Regions from separate parts of the Homo sapiens genome. Here region 1 is linked to region 2. Evidence: fine-mapped QTL for protein levels in blood plasma. Region 2 holds a variant in brackets. A gene starts in the other region. All regions are shown on their forward strands.

What was found. PIP is the chance, under the fine-mapping model, that this variant and not a neighbour inherited with it causes the effect. The UK Biobank Pharma Proteomics Project read protein levels with antibody pairs (Olink). The fine-mapping took linkage between variants from a reference panel, not from the people measured, so its PIPs are less certain.
Region 1: it holds the start of OMD, and the variant in region 2 is fine-mapped to the plasma level of the OMD protein (UK Biobank, PIP above 0.99).

The regions. Positions count from the first base shown.
Region 1 is chr9:92,421,060-92,429,059 of GRCh38, forward strand. OMD (osteomodulin) reads right to left here and starts at 3,412. Exons shown (of 3, transcript NM_005014.3): 1 at 3,143-3,412. All of the region lies in intron 5 of CENPP (centromere protein P), which reads left to right.
Region 2 is chr12:104,010,364-104,021,435 of GRCh38, forward strand. GLT8D2 (glycosyltransferase 8 domain containing 2) reads right to left here. Exons shown (of 11, transcript NM_001384711.1): 2 at 10,994-11,072; 3 at 9,267-9,313; 4 at 4,650-4,742. The coding sequence starts at 9,285. Among named protein-coding and RNA genes, the nearest start is that of GLT8D2, 34 kb to the right of the region's middle. RefSeq lists a silencer at 4,004-4,226. The variant T/C (reference allele first, on the strand shown) is at 4,691.

The DNA of each region.
Region 1 (8,000 bases), not on the chromosome of region 2:
TTTCTGAGACAGTCTCACTCTGTCACCCAGGCTGGAGCGCAGTGGTGCACTCTTGGCTCACCCTCCATCTCCTGGGCTCAAGTGACTCTCTTACTTCAGCCTCCTGAGTAGCTGGGATTACAGATGCGTGCCACCACACCTGGCTAATTTTTTAATTTTTTGTAAAGACAGGGTTTTGCCATGTTGCTCAGGCTGGTCATGAACTTCTGGGCTCAACCAGTCTGCCCCCCTCAGCCTCCCAAAGTGCTGGGATTACAGGCATGAGCCACCACCCCCGGCCTTGGAGGGCCTAAATTCTGACCTGAGGAATTTGCACTCTGGGAATGAATGCCTAATTTAATGAATTAACATATTTGGGCTGTGATTTCACACTACAGTCAGTGTTCGTGGGTGAAAAAGTAGAGAATCTTGGAAGGAGGTAGATTTAAGGAGTTATGGTATCATACCAAAGGGCAGTGTTCAGAGCAGGCTCTCCTTGCTGGGCTGGAAGCTCCCAGTGGGTCTGCTTGGAAATGCTTATTCACCTAGTGTACTCTACTACTTTACTGTATGTAAACATGCTTAGTGAAGCACTTTACAAATATTAGTAGTTAGTTTGATTGGGTTACATCAGTTTACCGTTGTCCTGAATTATTTCTAGTGATGAGGCACTATGCTAAGTTGGTGGAGAATACAGAAATGAAGAAGACGTGAAGCCATAGTCCCTTCTGTAAAGAGCAAACAGCTTAGTGGAGGAGAGAGATACAACAAAGTGAACCCTAATCTAAGGCAGAGGGTAATATCCTTTATAGCAGAGATAGGCAATGCTGTGGGGCCAGTGGCTTACCTCAGCCTTACGGAGACAGGAAAGTCTTTTGTAGACATCATTTGACCCAGACTTTGGGAGATTAATAGGAATGGATATAGAATATTCTATACATTTTATACTCATTGATGATATTTTATGTATAATTTTATAATATTTTATTGTACTTATTATAGTATAACATATTAACTTTTTTTTTTTTGGAGACAAGAGTCTCGTGCTGTCACCCAGGCTGGAGTGCAGTGGCACAATCTCGGCTCACTGCAACCTCCGCCTCCCAGGCTCAAGTGATTCTTGTGCCTCAGCCTCCTGAGTAGCTGGGATTACAGGCGTGCACCACCACGACTGGCTACATTTTTTTGTATTTTTAGTTAAGACGGGATTTTGCCATGTTGGCCAGCCTGGTCTCGAACTCCTGACCTCAGGTGATCCGCCCACCTCAGCCTCCCAAAGTGCTGAGATTACAGGTGTGAGCCACCTGCCTGGCTGAAAACTCAGCTTGAATTTTATCCCTTTGTTGAGAACATTAGCTAATCATCAGTTATCAACCTTACATTTGAGAATTAGAGTCTGTTGTTCAACAACTATGAAAAATTGTTGGGAAAAAAGAAGAAGGCCTTGAATCAAGACATGACTGGGGCGTCTCTGAAAATAAAGAGGTTTTTAATATTGTCTGCTTTCCGCCTTTGTGAGCACCTAAGAAGAAAGTCTTTCCTTGAGGAACAATTTCTCTTCTAAACCTGAACTTATCTTAAACATCCTTGTCCTCCTCCCTCCACGTTCCTAACCATGTAGTACAATCTTGTCCCACTCCCTTTGATTAAGTGCAGTTTTCTGTTTTGAAATCCATCCTGTTTTCATCTATATGCTCATTATTTTCTATGCCTCTTGCTCTTTCCCCAGGATAATTTCCCCTGTTACAACAATCTCTTATTTTATCCAAATTTTTCATTCCCCAACTAATCTCTTCTGAGTCATTTGCTAAGCATATTTTTGTTACTTCTGCTTTTCATACTCTACAATGTATGCCTTGTTCTCTATAGGATAACTCACAGCAATATTGTATAATTCATTGTTGATCATCTCATTTCCTAATATCTTTTAACAGAATCTAATACAATGCAGTGTTATAAGTGCTCAAAGGTGTGTTGAATGAATAAGTTAATAAGTTATAGGTTAAGGCTTGCTAGCAAATGCTTCTCTCTACTAATGTTGATTATTCCTAGGCATTTATTTCACTATGATAATTTCTTCAAATGAACATATTCATGAGAGCTTGACTGTTCCTTTTTCTATTGAATATTTCTTCATCACAATATACTGTATTCCTCACTTTCCTAGTACATCGTGTAGCAGGAAAAGAACAAATGTGAAAAAGAATGTTTGGAGCAAAGTAATATATATATATTACCAGTTTTCAATGTGAATTTTTCATATTATAGCAATAAAACCATCTGTGTCATAATATTTCTCTTACTTGGAGAAAAGCACTCGTGTTCATCAAGAAAAGTTTCAATTGAAATTACTAATGAGGTATAATTTACTTGTTCAGGAAAAGTTTAAAGTAAAATCCTCAACATTTTATTATGTTAAAGACATAATTGTTTTTATTTGTATGACATAGAAACTAGCATATAAGAAAGCAAATATTAGCATATAATTTAGATTTTTCCAAAAAAGTTCTAAATTTTAATTTTATAAAATTTTTTTGCTATTAAAAATACAATTACCTCAATTATTTTTAGCCATAATACATTTAAATCGTAATTAACTAAAACCCAAAGTAACTAGATCCTTCAATAGACTAGATAGAGCATCTGTATTTTCCCTTTGAGAAAGAAGTAAATGAAAAGAAAAACATTCTATATCAGGGATTTAGTCAGTAGAGAAATTTGGAGAAAATCTTGAGTGAAATTTGTACAAATGCCCATCAACCCCCCAACCGGAATCACTAGCATTGCTCAGCTGTATGCCTCAAAGGCATTAGCTGGTTCTTTGTTACTTATAATTCATAGAAAAAAAGAGACCTAAGGAAGAGAAAGAGATTGATTCCTTTAACCTGAGAATCTTTCCTTTCATTCAAAGTAAAAAAAAATCTAAACAAAGATTTTTTATTGGGTAAATCTTAAATGAGAAAGTTAAACTCATTATACTACTTTATTTGAACATTTTGCCTAATCAAAAGTTTAACATAACTTTTTTACCAGATTTTGCTTCCAAAAATTGTGCTTTTGTAATAGATGCAGTCTATTTTAATATTAAAAAATCCAATATACTTTTAAATTTTAACAGTAGGAATACATTCTTAAAAAATTGAAAATTATTTTATTATCATACCTGTTCAATTTGCTTTAGTTTTCAGGGGTTGATGAATTTGTAAATCCTTTAAATGAATCAGAAATTCCTAAATTCTTTAACTGAGTCTCTTAAAAATCCACAGTAACTCTGTGTCCAGACAGGGCTGTCTCTTGAATTACTGTAGCAATTTAAGCAAATACAATCTTCTTGGAAAACACTCGGGTTGAATTAAAATTATGTATTTCTTTTCATTACATGAAACTTTGTGGATTCAAATTAAGATGCTTGTGTTCTTGGTCAGATTTATGTGGCTTACTTCTTTCTTTTCCCCTTAATTTTGGTTTGAGGTGTGGCAAGAATTTCCTCTAATGTGAAAGGCAAACAAAACTAAATGAAACAGCATGTACTGATTACTGTTTTTATTTTCATTTTCATGCCAAAGAATTCTTCAAATTAAGGCCCACTGTGACAGGGAACTCCAGAGTCTCAGCAACTTAAGGTGGAACTCAAAATTTCTTTTTTAATTTTTTGAGATGGAGTCTTGCTTTGCTGCCCAGGCCAGAGTATAGTGGTGCAACCTCGGCTCACCACAACCTCCACCTCCCGGGTTCAAGCAATTCTCCTGTCTCAGCCTCCCAAGTAGCTGGGATTACAGGCATGAGCCACCATGCCTGGCTAATTTCTTGTATTTTTAGTAGAGATGGGGTTTCACCATGTTGGCCAGGCTGGTCTTGAACTCCTGACCTCAGGTGATCCTCCCGCCTCCACCTCCCAAATTGCTGGGATTACAGGCATGAGCCACCACGCCTGGCCTGGAACTCAAAATTTCTTGAGTCCCTTGGTTATTCAACACCTAGGTTCATATCAGTACTTCTATTTGTTAAAACAAGAAATCAGGATTAGAAACATAACATTTCGCATTGTTTATTTTTAAAATGCACTTGATTGTCATTGCTTACACAGATTAACTATACGACTTTTCTATACAAAGGCTTACATCTTCATTTTTATCATCATTTTTATCAGCTATCTCATTTCTCCTCTTTTTGGCAGATGTACCCACTAGAATGACTTCTAATATCCTTTCAGATAAAATTAGTCAGTTGGTTGCACTCCAAAGGTGTATCTTCAATTTGCCTGTTTTTACTATTGCACAAAATAATTCTGTAGTATTGAATAAAATGGGATGAAAAGCTTATGTTACTCAATAGCTATTGCCTTTATTTTGTAGATTTAGAAAATTTCTTCATTTCATAGAGCTATCTCTCCTGAATAGTAACAGTTAACTGTTTTTAATGTTTAATTTTTACACTGTTCTCATATTCTAAACAGAGAGTTGACTTGTGTCTTTTGGCAGTAGATTCGGAGTTCATTTTGGGGGGGAATTCTTTTAAGCTTTTACAAACTAATAAGATAAAGTGAATCCTGGAGTTCATTTTGTTTCCTCAAAAAAGTGTTTTCCATTAGCTTTTTACAAAGAACTCACAAGATTTATTTTGTTAAACTTTGCATTAAGAAAAGTATACAGTGTTTCAAGTGATGCTTTGGCAGTTGTAAAAATCTAGTCTATTATTTGAGACATTGGTATGAAAAACGTGGCAGACCACACTTTAGCCAAGATTCCATCTTGTTACTGATCTTTTCCATATGTTTTCTGTTAGTGTCTTTGTTCTTAAAACTCAGGCTTTCACTAAGGAAGAGAGAGCAAATCTGTGTACTTTTTCAAAAAATTGTTTTATAGGCCTTCACAGTCCTTTTGGAAGATTAACTGAAAATCAACAGCCTAATGTTTATATAACTTCTCATTAACTCTGTGATTTGGATTTATGATATTGATTATGTTATTCATGTTTTTAACAAGTGTGAAAGAAAAATCAGTAGATAACTAGAGCAGACAGAATAAAAATGTCTAGAAAATTTAAACTGATTGGCAGTGTCTATCTAGGAGGTTTAAGGTGGCAAGGGATGGGGATGGGGGGAGGTGGTGGTAGTTAGAGTCAGGCCTTAAAGGAAAAAATAGGGGATGTGAGTTTGTAATAGTTCACTGTTTTAGTTAAGTGGTTATAATTGTAGCAATTGGGGAGAAAAGGAGTTGAATTGTTGAAAAGTGTAAATTATATGCTATGATTATACTTTGATTGAAATAGATTCAGTATCTCAAAGCTGAGTGACACAGGACTGGCTAGGAAAGGCCCTCCTGAGACCTGCTTAATTAACATAATAAGCATTACAATTTTCTGCTCATTTGTTCCACTTTATTCACTGGACACCTACTTTGTGCAGATTTTAGATGCTTGGGACTCAGCAGTGAAAGTCTCTGTTATAGAGAAGGAAAACAGAAAATAAACATAAATAAGCATAAAATGCAGAATATAAACAATGTAGAGTGCGATGGAAGAGAATAATGCAAGGTAAAGGGATAAAAATGAATGAGGCATGGGGGTACGGGTCAACAGTTCAGGCACCGCTGTATGTGGGGACTGGAATGGAACAATTAAGTTACTGTATGGCAGATGGTGAGAGCCAGGTGTCTCACCGTTGGAGTGGAAGTTACAAATAAATAAGCGAGGTGAGGTGGTGACAGTGATTCATGTGGTAATAGATTAGAGTTGAAGACATCAGTATGAACTCATATTTAGCTTAATATAGATACAGCTGGTTAAAAGGGAAATGTAATTATGTTATATACACATAGTACACACATAGACCTCCTTGCTCTGTTGGCTGAGAGATCCTACAAGCAGGAGCACTTTAAGCAGCAACAAACACAAAGCCCAGATCTTGGTTTCTAACATCATTTTCCAGTAAAAGGAACCAGGGCTGCTCCTTGGAGAAATGGCTGTTTCCAGGAGGACTGGAGCAAGGAAAGTAGGAGATGGGCCTGGAGCATTGTACAGTACCAGAAAAAGGGCACTCAGCAAAGAAAGGGATCTGGGGAGTCTCTGTTCTTCCACTCAGTTTTGCTGTGAACCTAAAACTGCTCTAAAAAATAAAGTCTATTAATCTTTTTTGTTGTTGTTGAGACAGTCTGGCTCTGTCGCCAAGGCTGGAGTGCAATGGCGCCGTCTTGGCTCACTGCAGCCTCCACCTCCTGGGTTCAAGCGATTCTCCTGCCTCAGCCTCCTGACTAGCTGGGATTACAGGTGTGCACCACCACACCCAGCTAATTTTTGTATTTTTAGTAGAGACTGGGTTTCACCATGTTGGCCAGCCTGGTCTTGAACTCCTGACCTCAGGTGATCCGCCCGCCTCAGCCTCCCAAAGTGCTGGGATTACAGGCATGAGCCACCGCAGCTGGCTATTAATCTTTATTATTTATTTAAGTATTTATTTTTGAGATGGAGTTCCACTCTTGTTGCCCAGGCTGGAGTGCAGTGGTGTGATCTTGGCCCACTGTACCCTCTGCCTCCCGGGTTTAAGCAATTCTTCTGCCTCGGCCTCCCAAGTAGCTGGTATTACAGGCATGTGCCACCATGTCTGGCTAATTTTGTATTTTCAGTAGAGTCGGGGGTTTTCCATGTTGGTCAGGCAGGTCTCGAGCTCCTGACCTCAGGCAGTCCACCCGCCTCAGCCTCCCAAAGTGCTGGGATTACAGGCTTGAGCCACCATGCCCTGACTATTAATTAATCTTTGAAAAAGGGCAGGCAGAAACTATTTTAAGTAGTTTAGATATTTAGAACTAAATATGGTGATGGGGCAAGCCAAGTTGGTATCAGAGTGGTGACAGGCCAGCTTGGCTGATGCCTAGTGATCTAGGAGGAGGGAGTAGGTGGTACTCTCACAGGTAGCCAGTGTCAGCAGGGTCAAGGCAGACATATGCCTGGAAGTAACCACCTCTCAGCATTCTAAATGGAATCAAGTTTGTAAGGCAGATAATGACACTTAGCTGATGAACTACTTCTATCAGAAAGGCCACTTGGGCAGCCCTATAGAAACAGTCCAAACATTAATTGCAGTCAGTCTCTTAGTCTATCTGCTCCCAGGGGGCTATGAGGAGCAGAGGCTCCTGAATTCATGGCCCATACTCACAGGCTTTCTTGGCCATCATCATTCACATTTTCTGTAAATGGTGCCCCCATGCCAACCCTGACCACTCTCTTGTGTAAGCCAGAAGTTTGGGAGTCCTTTAAATTAGTACCTTCTCAAGTGTGGCCGGAGGTCCATCATCATCAGAATTACCAGAGCTGCTTATTAAAAATTCAGGTTCCAGCATCTTTATACTCAAGATCTACAAAATCAGAACCTCTGAGCATGGGCCCAGGAACTTCCATTTTAAACAAGTGTCCCAGGTCCCACCAAACCTTGAGAACCACTGATGTAAATACTTCTCCCTGACTTTCAAATTGAATCTATTGGTGAATCTTTTGTGTTCTACACCCAAGTATCTTTTTGGTCTGTCTGTGTCTCATACCATGACTGCCATCATCTCAAACCCAGGTGTTCTGGGTAGGGTCTTGACTATGTTCATACATCTCCAAGCAATTTTCTTCTTGTCTGCATAAAAATCAGACTGCACACTGTGTCTACTTAAACTTCCTTGTTTCTGCTTGTTACTTGCTTCTACTTGTTACTTCCAGTGATGCTTTATTTAAAAAAGTAAATTCCAAACATTGATCTTCAAGATTGGGGATGATCTGACCTTGGCCTACTACTTGCCCATTCTTGGAATGTTCAGTTTGCAGCACTGCTGGTTTCTGCGCTGTACCCACACTGGCTTCTTTTTGACCCTCACATTGCCATGTTTCTGTCTCACTATGACCTTTGAAGGAGCTTCTCTGTCTCTTGAGGATGCTAGGCCTCTGTACCTCTCAATCTTGTTGTTAGCTAACTCTTATCTTTAAGACATCAGCTTATTCCAGTTGCAATTAATTATGAATGTAATTATTTGTCTGCTTTC
Region 2 (11,072 bases):
TCCTTTTCTGCATGGCTAACCCTTACATATTCATTCCAAATGCAGTACTGACATCAGATCCTCTGGGAAGCCTTTAATACCTCCCTACACATAAATTAACACGCACCTTCTCTATGCTGTGGCCTTGCCTATGGTTGAATTTATTAATTGCGTTGGAATTTATTTGGTTGCATGTCTTTCCTCTTTCTCCTATTACACTAGGAGCTCTGTGAGGGCAGGTATTTTGTTCATCTCTGTATCCTCTGCAGCTGTCCCAGTGCCTGGCACATAGTAGATTTTCAATACGATCTGAATAGATGGGTGAATATTAGATATCTCTATTTGAGCACTTGCCACAATGCCTGGAAGAATCTATTTATGTGTCTGTCTCCTCCACTAGACTGTAAGCTCATTATATTATCCCCACTGAGTCTGGCACTTTGGAAGTGCTTAATGAAAGTTTGCTGGAATGAACTAAATGGAATTGATGAATGAGTCTCAGAAAACAGGGCCCTTGAGGAATAAGAGGGAAGGGTAAAAAAGCTGGGGCTGTGCCTGGCTGCCAGAGTCAGACGGAGGCCTTCAGCAGACTGTGGGAAGCACAAGGTAAAAGGAAAGTGTCCTCATAAAAGAGGGGACACTCCAGAAAAAGGTCAAACATTGAGTGTCCAGCTCTGCTGCCAACACATGACACTGCCACACTCCTTAGGGGCCTCTGCCAGGTAGAGAAACTGAGCACTAACTTAAGCCAAAAATACTGCTCTCTGCCAAAAAGTTCCCCCTGGACAGAATGAAGGACAAATGCACACTGGAGAAATGTGGCAGAAAGGCTTATCAACTGTACCTTCTTCATCAATGCTCCATCCTTGCAGTTTCTTTAGGAATTATCTGCTCCATTATTTGGATTCATTGTACCAACTGGTGCCTGAGCCAAAGCATTAAAATGTTGGCTATGGGAAACTATTTGGTGCCTAACAAAAATAGTAAACATCACAATGCTGGCAGAATGGAACAGAAATGATACTGCCTTCGTCCATTCCATAAGCAGCTCTGATCAAGCCACGCCTATTCCTAGAAGAAAGGAAATGTCTGCTTTCCTAATGCCATGACTCAGAATTCCATTTCAAATAAGGATTGTTTTAGCCAAGTGTATCAGCTTACCTCTCCCCAAGTGGGACAGCTGCGAGTGACCAGCACACTAGTCACAAGAGAAGTATCGGGAGATTACATGGAGTGTCACAATGGGGATATTACAGAGAATACCGCCATGTTTTACTTGAACGTAGGACTTCACAGGGCCTCTGGACATCAACTTAGAACACTAGTTCTTTGAATTAATGTTTTTCAAATTATAAAAAATAATACATAATTATTGAAAAAATTTCAGCCCAAACAGAAGAGTATTTGGTAAATTGTGACTGTTTTCTGCAGACCTCTCACTCCCACTCCAAAAGTAGACCTCTGCTTTATAACAATATATAACACAACCAGTGTGGTGTGTGCCCCTTAAACCCTTCTTAATGGTAATACTAAAGAATATATACCTGGGCCGGGCGCAGTGGCTCACATCTGTAATCCCAGCACTTTGGGACACTAAGGTGGGCAGATCATCTGAGGTCAGGCGTTTGAGACCAGCTTGACCAACATGGAGAAACCCCATCTCTCCTAAAAATACAAAATTAGCCAGGCATGGTGGCGCATGCCTGTAATCCCAGCCACTCGGGAGGCTGAGGCAGGAGAATCACTTGAACCCAGAGGCAGAGGTAGTGGTGAGCCGAGATGGCACCATTGCACTCCAGCCTGGGCAACAAGAGCGAAACTCTGTCTCAAAAAAAAAAAAAAAAAAAATATATATATATATATATATATACCTTAAACACTTATTATTTAAAAACCAAAATGGAATCATACTTTTCAGTCTCTTCTGCAACTTGCTTTTCCCATTTAACATACCACAAGCATTCTTCCATGCCAATGCTACATTCGTTTGAATGGTATTTTATAACATCGATTTTAAAAAATTTTAACACTGAATGGATAAACATGTGATAATGGATCCATTCATGCGGTCCAAATGCTTTGTTTCTCTGTATAGGTCTGATTAGGCAGTCAGGATGTGCATTTCTTTGGAGCTGTTTTAACAGCTGTTTTAAAACCTATCCACTTATTTTCCTGAAGAAGGGAGTCTGTGGTGGGATTAGCTGAGTGAATGTGTTGGTTTATGAGCAGGGATTGAAGCATGAAGAGTGGAGTCAGTTCAGATGACATTTGTCTTTATGTGACTTCCTTCTCTCTCTCTCTCTTTTAGAACAGTTTATTGAGGTGTAGATACTGCTATGGACTGAATTGTGTCCTCCAGAGTCCGTTTGTTAACGTCTTAGCTTCCAGCATCTCAGGATGTCCATGCACTTAATTGCCTTTAAAAAGGCAAATAAGTTAAAATGAAGCCATTTGGTAGGCCTTATCCCAGTAAGACTGGTATCCTAATAAAAGGAGGAAAAGAGGAGAATCACACAGAGGGTCACAGCCAGGAATGCAGCACAGAGAAAAGGCCACGTGAGGACACAGCAAGAAGGCGGCCATCTGCATGCCAAGGAGAGAGGCCTCAGGAGAAACAAAACCTGCTCACACCTTGATCCTGGACTTCCAGCCTCCAGAACCAGAGAAAATACATTTCTATGGTCTAGCCACCTAGTCTGTGCTATTTTGTTATGGCAGCCCAAGCAAACGAATACAGATTTTTAAAAATTTACCCATTGTAAGCGTACAGTACAATGATGTTTAGTAAATTTATAGAATTGCACAACCATCACCAAGATCCAATTTTAGAAAGTTCCATTGAGCTGCCTGGTCTGCAGTCAGTCCATTCCCACTCCCAGCTCTAGGCAACCACTGATCTGCTCTGTGTCTCCATAGATTTTCCTTTTCTAGAAATTTCATATAGATGGAATCATACAATATATGGTCTTTCAGGTCTGACTTCTTTTATTTAGCATAGTTTTTTTTCAGGTTCATCCATATTGCAGCTTGTATCAGTCATTTGTTCCTTTTTACTGTCGAAAAGTATTTCATTGTGTGAGATAAATTACATTTTTTGTATCCCTCACGAGTTGATGTACATGTGAATTGTTTCCAGTTTGGGGCTACTATGAATTATACCCTAAGAACATTTGTATATATGTCTTTGTATGAAAATCATTCTCTTTGCAGATTCCATGTTCATTTAGATCAGATTATACATGTTTTTAATTATTTTTAAATGAATTTTTAAATTACAAAATATAATCAGAAAGAAATGCCAGCTTCCTGGGAATAGGGATATTGTTTTGTTCACTGTTGTGTTTCCAGTCCCTAAGTGTCTGACTGAAAAAAAAAACAAAACTGTGGAATAAATGTATGTAACACACCAAATAACTGTATTCAGAGTCTCACTCTGTCATCCAAGCTGGAGTGCAGTGGCACTATCAGGGCTCACTGCTGCTTAGACCTCCTAGGCTCAAGTGATCCTCTCATTCCAGCTCCCAAGTAGCTGGGACTATAGGCATGCCCCACCATGCCCAGGTAATTTTTTGTGTGCATGCAGATGGGGTCTTGCTTTGTTGCCTAGGCTGGGCTGGTCTCAAACACCTGGACTCAAGTGATCCTCCCGCCTCAGCCTCCCAAAGTGCTGGATTACAAGTATGAGCCACCATCGCCAGCCCGTAAGTGTGTATTTGCTTGATTTATATAAAAAGTAAATTAGCTGGGCATGGAGCTCATGCCTGTAATCCCAGCACTTTGGGAGGCCAAGGTAGGAGGACAGCTTGAGCCCAGGAGTTCAAGATGAACCTGAGCAGCATGGCAAAACCCATTTCTACAAAAAATTAGCTGGGCGTGGTGGCACACACCTGTAGTTCCAACTTCCTGGGGTGCTGAGGCCGGAGGATTGCTTGAGCCCTGGAGGTCGAGGCTGCAGGGAGCTGCTATTGTGCCACTGTATTTGAGCTGGGGCAACAGAGTGAGATTCTGTCTCAAAAAAAAAAGTAAATTAATTAAAAATGTAATAAACAGTGCTTCCTGATTTTTATGGAGGTTGACTTTGTGTGTGCATTGGAGTTTTGAAGGTGCCATCTCAGGCAATTCACCCCCGAGGAGGGAAACATGGTTCTCAGTGCAGCTGGGAGAGACCACAGGGCCAATGAAGGGCCATTTTCAAGTTGAGAGTTATGAGGCTGACTTGCACTGATGGGAATGAACCAGCAGGGAGAGGAGAAAGAGGGTGGTTTCCATAAGCAAAGTCATTGAGAAGCTCCAAAGAGATGGAGTGTGGAGCAGTGCACTCACCCTGTGGTCCAAGAACCTACAGCATCAGCCTCAACCAGGAGCTTATCGGAAATGCAAGTCTTGAGGCCCCACACCATACCTACTGATCCTACACCTCACGGGTGGGCCCAGTGCTGTGTTTTAACAAGCTCTCCATGTGACTCTCACACATGCTAAAGTTTGAATAGCACCGACCATCCTAGGGCACGACTGAAAAGGTGGTCTAGGGCGGATATTCTACTAGCAGGTCCTTGGGAGTTGACCAAACTGTCACTTGTCCCTGAACCCAGCTATTGAAAGGACCTAGAGGAACATATTCAAACCACATTCCTGGGTATCCCAACTCAATGAATTCCATGTCTGCTCACCTGCGTCATTCTTGGGCACAGTCCCCTTATGAACTTTCTTA[T/C]ACAGAATCACACAGAGGGTCACGATCAGAAGGAACAGCAGCACCTGATTAACTGAAATAGAAATGGAAACACATTAACATTGAACCTATGAACCTGAAATCACGTGACAAAGTTTAGAATGGTAGTGCGAGTAGGTGCCTTCCATGACACAGAGGAGTGGTATCTGAGACCTTTCTATAAGCAGACAGCATATAGAATAAAGAATTAACCTGGCCAGGTGTGGTAGCTCATGCCTGTAATCCCAGTACTTTGGGAGGCCAAGGCAGGTGGATCACCTGAGCTCAGGAGTTTCGAGACCAGCCTGGGCAACAGAGTGGGACCCTGTCTCAACAACAACAAACACACACACACACACACACACACACACACACACACACACACAAATTAGCTGGGCGTGGTGGCATGCACCTGTAGTCTCAGCTACTAAGGAGGCTGAGATAGGAGGATGGCTTGAGCCTGGGAGGTGGAGGCTGCAGTGAGCCAAAATTACTCCAGCCTGGGTGACAGAGCCAGACCCTGTCTCAAATACAAAAACAAACAAACAGAAAGAATTAACCTGGAACACTATTGTTGCTCAGGGGTCTTGCATCTTTACTGAATTTGTATATCAGTTCTAATAGTTTTTTGCTGGAGTCTTTAGAATTTTCCAAATATAAGATTATATTGGCCAGTTGTAGTGGCTCACACCTGTAATCCCAGCACTTTGGGAGGCTGAGGTGGGCAGATCACATGAGGCCAGGAGTTCAAGGCCAGCCTGGGCAATATGGTGAAACCCTATCTCTACTAAATTATACAAAAATTAGCTGGGCGTGATGGTGCATGCCTGTAATCCCAGCTATTTGGGAGGCTGAGGCATGAGAATTGCTTGAACCTGGGAGGTGGAGGTTGCAGTGAGCCAAGATCACACCACTGGGCAATAGAGCAAGACCTTCCTTCCAAAACAAAACAAAACAAAAACGTATCATCTGCAAACAGGATAATTTGAGTTCTTCCTTTCCAATTTGGATGCCCTTTATTTTTTTTGCTTGTCTGATTGCTCTAGCTAGGGCTTCCACTACTATGTTGAATAACAGTGGTGAAACGCAGCCATCCTTGTCGTGTTCCAGATGTAAGAGGAAAGGCTTTCAGTTTTTCCCCATTTAGTATGATACTAGCTGTGGGTCTGCCGTATGTGGCTTTTATTTTGTTGAATTTATGTGATTCTTCTTATGAGCCAGTAGTAATTATAAATACATGTTCTTAGCCATTATGACACAGCTGCTTTTCAGTTAATTCAACCCTTGGTCAAGGATGATGTGCAGGCCGGGTGTGGTGGCTCACACCTGTAATCCCAGCACTTTGGGAGGCCAAGGCAGGTGGATCACTGGAGGCCAGGAGTTTGAGACCAGCCTGGCCAACATAGCAAAACCCCATCTCTACTAAAAATACAAAAATTAGCCAGGTGTTGCGCATGCCTGTAGTCCCAGCTATTCAGGAGGTTGAGGCAAGAGAATCACTTAAACCTGGGAGGCAGAGGTTGCAGTGAGCCGAGATCATGCCACTGCACTCCAGTCTGGGTGACAAAGGGAGACTCTGTCAAAAAAGAAAGAAGGAGAGAAAGAAAGAAAGAAAGAGAGAGAGAGAGAAAGAAAAGAAAGAAAGAAAGAAAGGGAGAGAGAAAGAAAGAAAGAAAGAAAGAAAGAAAGAAAGAAAGAAAGAAAGAAAGAAAGAAAGAAAGAAAGAAGGAAGGAAGGAAGGAAGGAAGGAAGGAAGGAAAGAAAGAAAGAGAAAGAAAAGAAAGAAAGAAAGAAAGAAAGAAAGAAAGAAAGAAAGAAAGAAAGAAAGAAAGAAAAATAAAGAGAGAAAGAAAGAAAGGAAGAAAGAAAGAAATTCTTGCCCTGGTAAACAGAAGACCTCAATGCCTCCAAGCCTCCAGCTCTGTTTGTTCCAGTGATGTTGGCCCTTGAGATCTGTTGAGAAGTAGAGTGGTGTAAAACAGTGTTTTCTTGAGTATGGAACATATAGCACTGGTTGTGCATGAAATGACTGAGGAAGTTCATGTTCATAGCATTAATATTTAATCAGCATATGAGAAAGTCAATCTTTCTGATTTTATGTGCAGGAACACAACAAAAGCTACCCAGAGTTGAATCACATTCTCCTAATTGTATATGTGTTTAAAGCTACCTTTTTTTTTTAATGATAGGAAATCATTCTGTTTTCATTTGCAGTAAGGATAAAAACTTTCTATTATGAAGTACACTTATAAATTTTTAAAATTAGTCAAAGAAAACAAAATTGGTTTTGAGATGGAGTTTCACTCTTGTTGTCCAGGCTGGAGTGCAATGGCACAGCCTTGGCTCACTGCAACCTCTGCCTCCTGGATTCAAGCGATTCTCCTGCCTCAGCCTCCCGAGTAGCTGGGATTACAGGCCCCCACCACCATGCCTGGCTAATTTTTGTATTTTTAGTAGAGACAGGGTTTCACCATGTTGGCCAGGCTGATCTTGAACTTCTGACCACAAGTGATCCTCCCACCTTGGTCTCCCAAAGTGCTGGAATTACAGGCATGAGCCACTGTGCCTGGCCTAAAGAAAATATTAAGAAATGTTTAGGACAGAAGGAACACAGCTGATGAAAAATTGAGAAGATGGCATGTTGGCATGTGTAGTGCACACCTACCTAAAGTTTGGGAAAAGTTGGTAGAAGGGAAGAGGGTGTGAATTTGAAGTCAGACTCAAATCTCTTTTCTACCACCTCCTAGCTGTATGGCCGAGGGGTATCTTAACCTCTCTGAGCTTGGTGTGCTTATCTGCTGAATGAAGATTGTAATAATAAGCATTACCTCGCACTACTGTTTTGAGAGTTAACCAAGGCAATGCAGGCCCAATAAAGACTTTACAAATGGTTATGCATCATTGTTATTATTATTTTATCTTTTTTTTTCTTTTTTGAGACAGGGTCTCACCTCAGTTGCCCTGGCTGGAGTGCAGCAGTGTGATCTCAGCTCACTGTAACCTCAACCTTGCAGGCTCAGGTGATTCTCCTACCTCAGCCTCCGAAGTAGCTGGGACTATAGACACATATCACCACACCTGGCTAATTTTTTGTATTTTTTAGTAGAAACGGGGTTTCACCATGTTGCTAAGGCTGGTCTCGAACTCCTGGACTCAAGCAATCCACCTGCCTCGGCCTCCCAAAGTGCTGGGAATACAGGCATGAGCCACCGCACCTGGCCTGTATTATTTTTTATTATTTTTATGCATCAAGAGACTTAATCTATTGACTTCATATGCATCTATTTTTTGGCCTCTATGCCTTTGTCTTCCCATTTGTAAAAGAGTCTTCGTGGATGCCCTCCAAAGCTACATCCTGAGGCTGTGATTCTATTTTGCTGACACCCAGTTCCTCCCTGCCTTAATGGATTATCAGATTCAGCCAGGGACAATCAGATACTAGACTCCATTTAAAACAAAACTACAGAGAAGCAGAAAATGGACAGAAAATGGACAAAATTCTACAGTTTATCAACAGGCCCGATTAATATTCACCTGCCACGGCCGGGCGCAGTGCCTCACACCTGTAATCCCAGCACTTTGGGAGGCTGAGGCGGGTGGATCACTTGAGGTCAGGAGTTCAAGACTAGCCTGGCTAACATGGTGAAAACCCATCTCTACTAAAAATACAAAAATTACCCAGGCAAGTATGTCTCATGCAATATTTGGGACATACTTATACTAAAAAATTATTTGTTGTTTATCTGAAGTTCAAATTTAACTGGTTGTCCTGTTCTGAGTCTTTGTTTGCTGAATCTGGCAACTCTACCCTGAGGGTCACAGAATTAGGTTACTATGTTTCTCCTCAAATTCACAAACTACTGGATCTAAAATCAGAGGCAAATCCAGGTTCTGATGGGTATGAAGATTCGAGATGACTCTTTAAGACTAAGAACGCAAAATTACAAATTACAAATGCTAAATTAGCTATGAACATGAATATTTATTCCGAACGAGAAAATGCATTATTTTTGCAAGTTTTATAGAAATATATGATCCCTGCTGTAAGTTCACTTCCACTTCTTCTTCTTTTTTTTTTTTTTTTTTTGTGTGTTTGAGACAGGGTCTCACTCTGTCTCCCAGGCTGGCATGCAGTGGTGCAATCTCAGCTCACTGCAGCCTCTGCCTCCCAGGCTCAAGTGATCCCCCTGCCTCAGCCTCCCGAGTAGCTGAGACTACAGGTGTCCGCCACCATGCCTGGCTAATTTTTGTATTTTTTGTAGAGATGGGGTCTCTCCATGTTACCCAGGCTGGTCTCGAACTCCCGAGCTCAACTGACCCGCCCACCTCAGCCTCCCAAAGTGCTAGGATTACAGGCGTGAGCCAGTGCGCCCAGCCGATAAGTCCACTTCTGACTAAAATACTGAACAACTCTCCATGGGAATCATCTGGAAATGATGATGCCAAAAAGTGCCTGTGGGAAAACTATCCATGAAAATCAAACACAATCCAAGAAAGAAGAAAAGAGCCAAGCCCCAGCCTCAAAACCATCCTCCCAAATATGTTTTTAAATCATTATTTTCAAAAGTTGAAATCTTACTTTTTCGTAACAGAGCCATGTGTATTCACGCGGATAAGAACTGTAACCTGTGGATTAAAGGAAAAAAAATCTGTTTAAAGGAGAATCAACTTAAAACTCATCAACAAGTGTTAAGGACTATGCCTTCCCTGAAAGACTGATATATCGTGAAGTGTGTGATCATTTTTTACTGCTCCAAATCTAAAATTTTGGAAACAAAATAAATACTAGCCCATGTCTTCAAAAGCAATGCCTCTGGTTGAACAAACCTTACTAAGGGTCCTCAAAAGCTAATCTTTTGTCTTCAGAAGTTCTTTCTTTCTTTTTTGGTGATAGAGTCTCGCTCCATCACCCAGGCTGGAATGCAGTGGTGCGATCTTGGCTCACTGCAATCTCCCCCTCCCAGGTTCAAGCGATCTTCCTTCCTCAGCCTCCCAAGTAGCTGGACCTACAGGCATGCACCACCACACCCAGCTAAATTTTTTTTGTTTTTAGTAGAGATGGGGTTTTGCCATGTTGCCCAGGCTGGTCTCGAACTCCTAGCCTCAAGCAATCCATCCATCTTAGCCTCCCAAAGTGCTGGGATTATAGATGTGAGCCACAGTGCCCAGCCCAGAATTTTTTTTAACCTCTTGTAAAAAGAGCTCTGTCAGCCTTCTGGGTCAGCAGAGCAGATGGCAGAAACTGGAAGTATCACACTAGATCTCCCTGATCTAAAATATCAACCCTATGCCATCTTTCTACTATCATAACTTCGTTCCTCGATAAGGCAGATTTTACATCTTCAAGAATCCCTTGGAGGGGCATGCATTATACTCAATTCAATCATTCATTCAGTATTTACATATTGAGATCCTACTAAAAGCCCAGCACTGTGCCACTTCCCAGTGATGCACCGAAAAACAAAACAGTACTGGTCCCTATCCTCCTGAAGCTTTTGGTCCAGTGGGGGAAACAGATATTAAAATGTGACACATAAAAGTATTAGATTATGGTAAGTGCTATGAAGGAAGCAAAGGAGATGTTGGGATAAAGACGAACAAGGGTAGGGAGTGCATCAGGAGGAGAAATCAGGAAAAACTTCATTGAGGAGATGGCATTGGAGGGAAAGAAGAGCAAGAGCCAGTCAAGGGCAGAACATGCAGAGGAGCATCCCAGGCAGAGGGAACAGCAAGTGCAAAGGCCCTGGGGCTGGAAAGAGCTCTAAGTATTCTAGGAACTGCAAGAAACTCAAACTGGCTGGATCATAGTGGACCAAAGGAGAGACTGGATGGAAGAGGTCAGAGAGGTACCAAGGGGCCGGATACTACTGTGCCTGAAGAGGAGTTTGGATTTTATTTTAAGTGCATTAAACCCCCTCCATCAGTGTTTAACTTTGTTAAAGCCCTAAAGCACTGTTTTTCAAACATTCCCAAGGGAATTCTGATGGTAAAGGAGAGTGAATACTCAACATTGCTCACAATGAGCTCAAAGTATCTTTCATGTTTTTTGTTTTACCTTCAAATTCATGGGAACTGTGCAAGAATGTAGTGGAAAGGAATCACTCCTTTAACTGCTGGCAGAGTTCCCCCCTCAGGGAGAAAGCTATCTGTTATGAAAGCAAGGTCTTCTGTGCCTAGGTGGGATGGCTAGGTGAGAGCAGGGAAAAGCTAACCTGGTCTGAATAAGGGATGAACCGAATCCTAAGGTTCGGCCACAGCCCAAGAAAAAATGTTATTAGAGGAAAAGGAAAAGTCCAAGTCACTTACCCTGGAGAACTTCCTTTCCTATGGCAGGCCCAGGGACTATTCAAGAACAGATGTCCAATACTCAGCTCACAATCTTCTT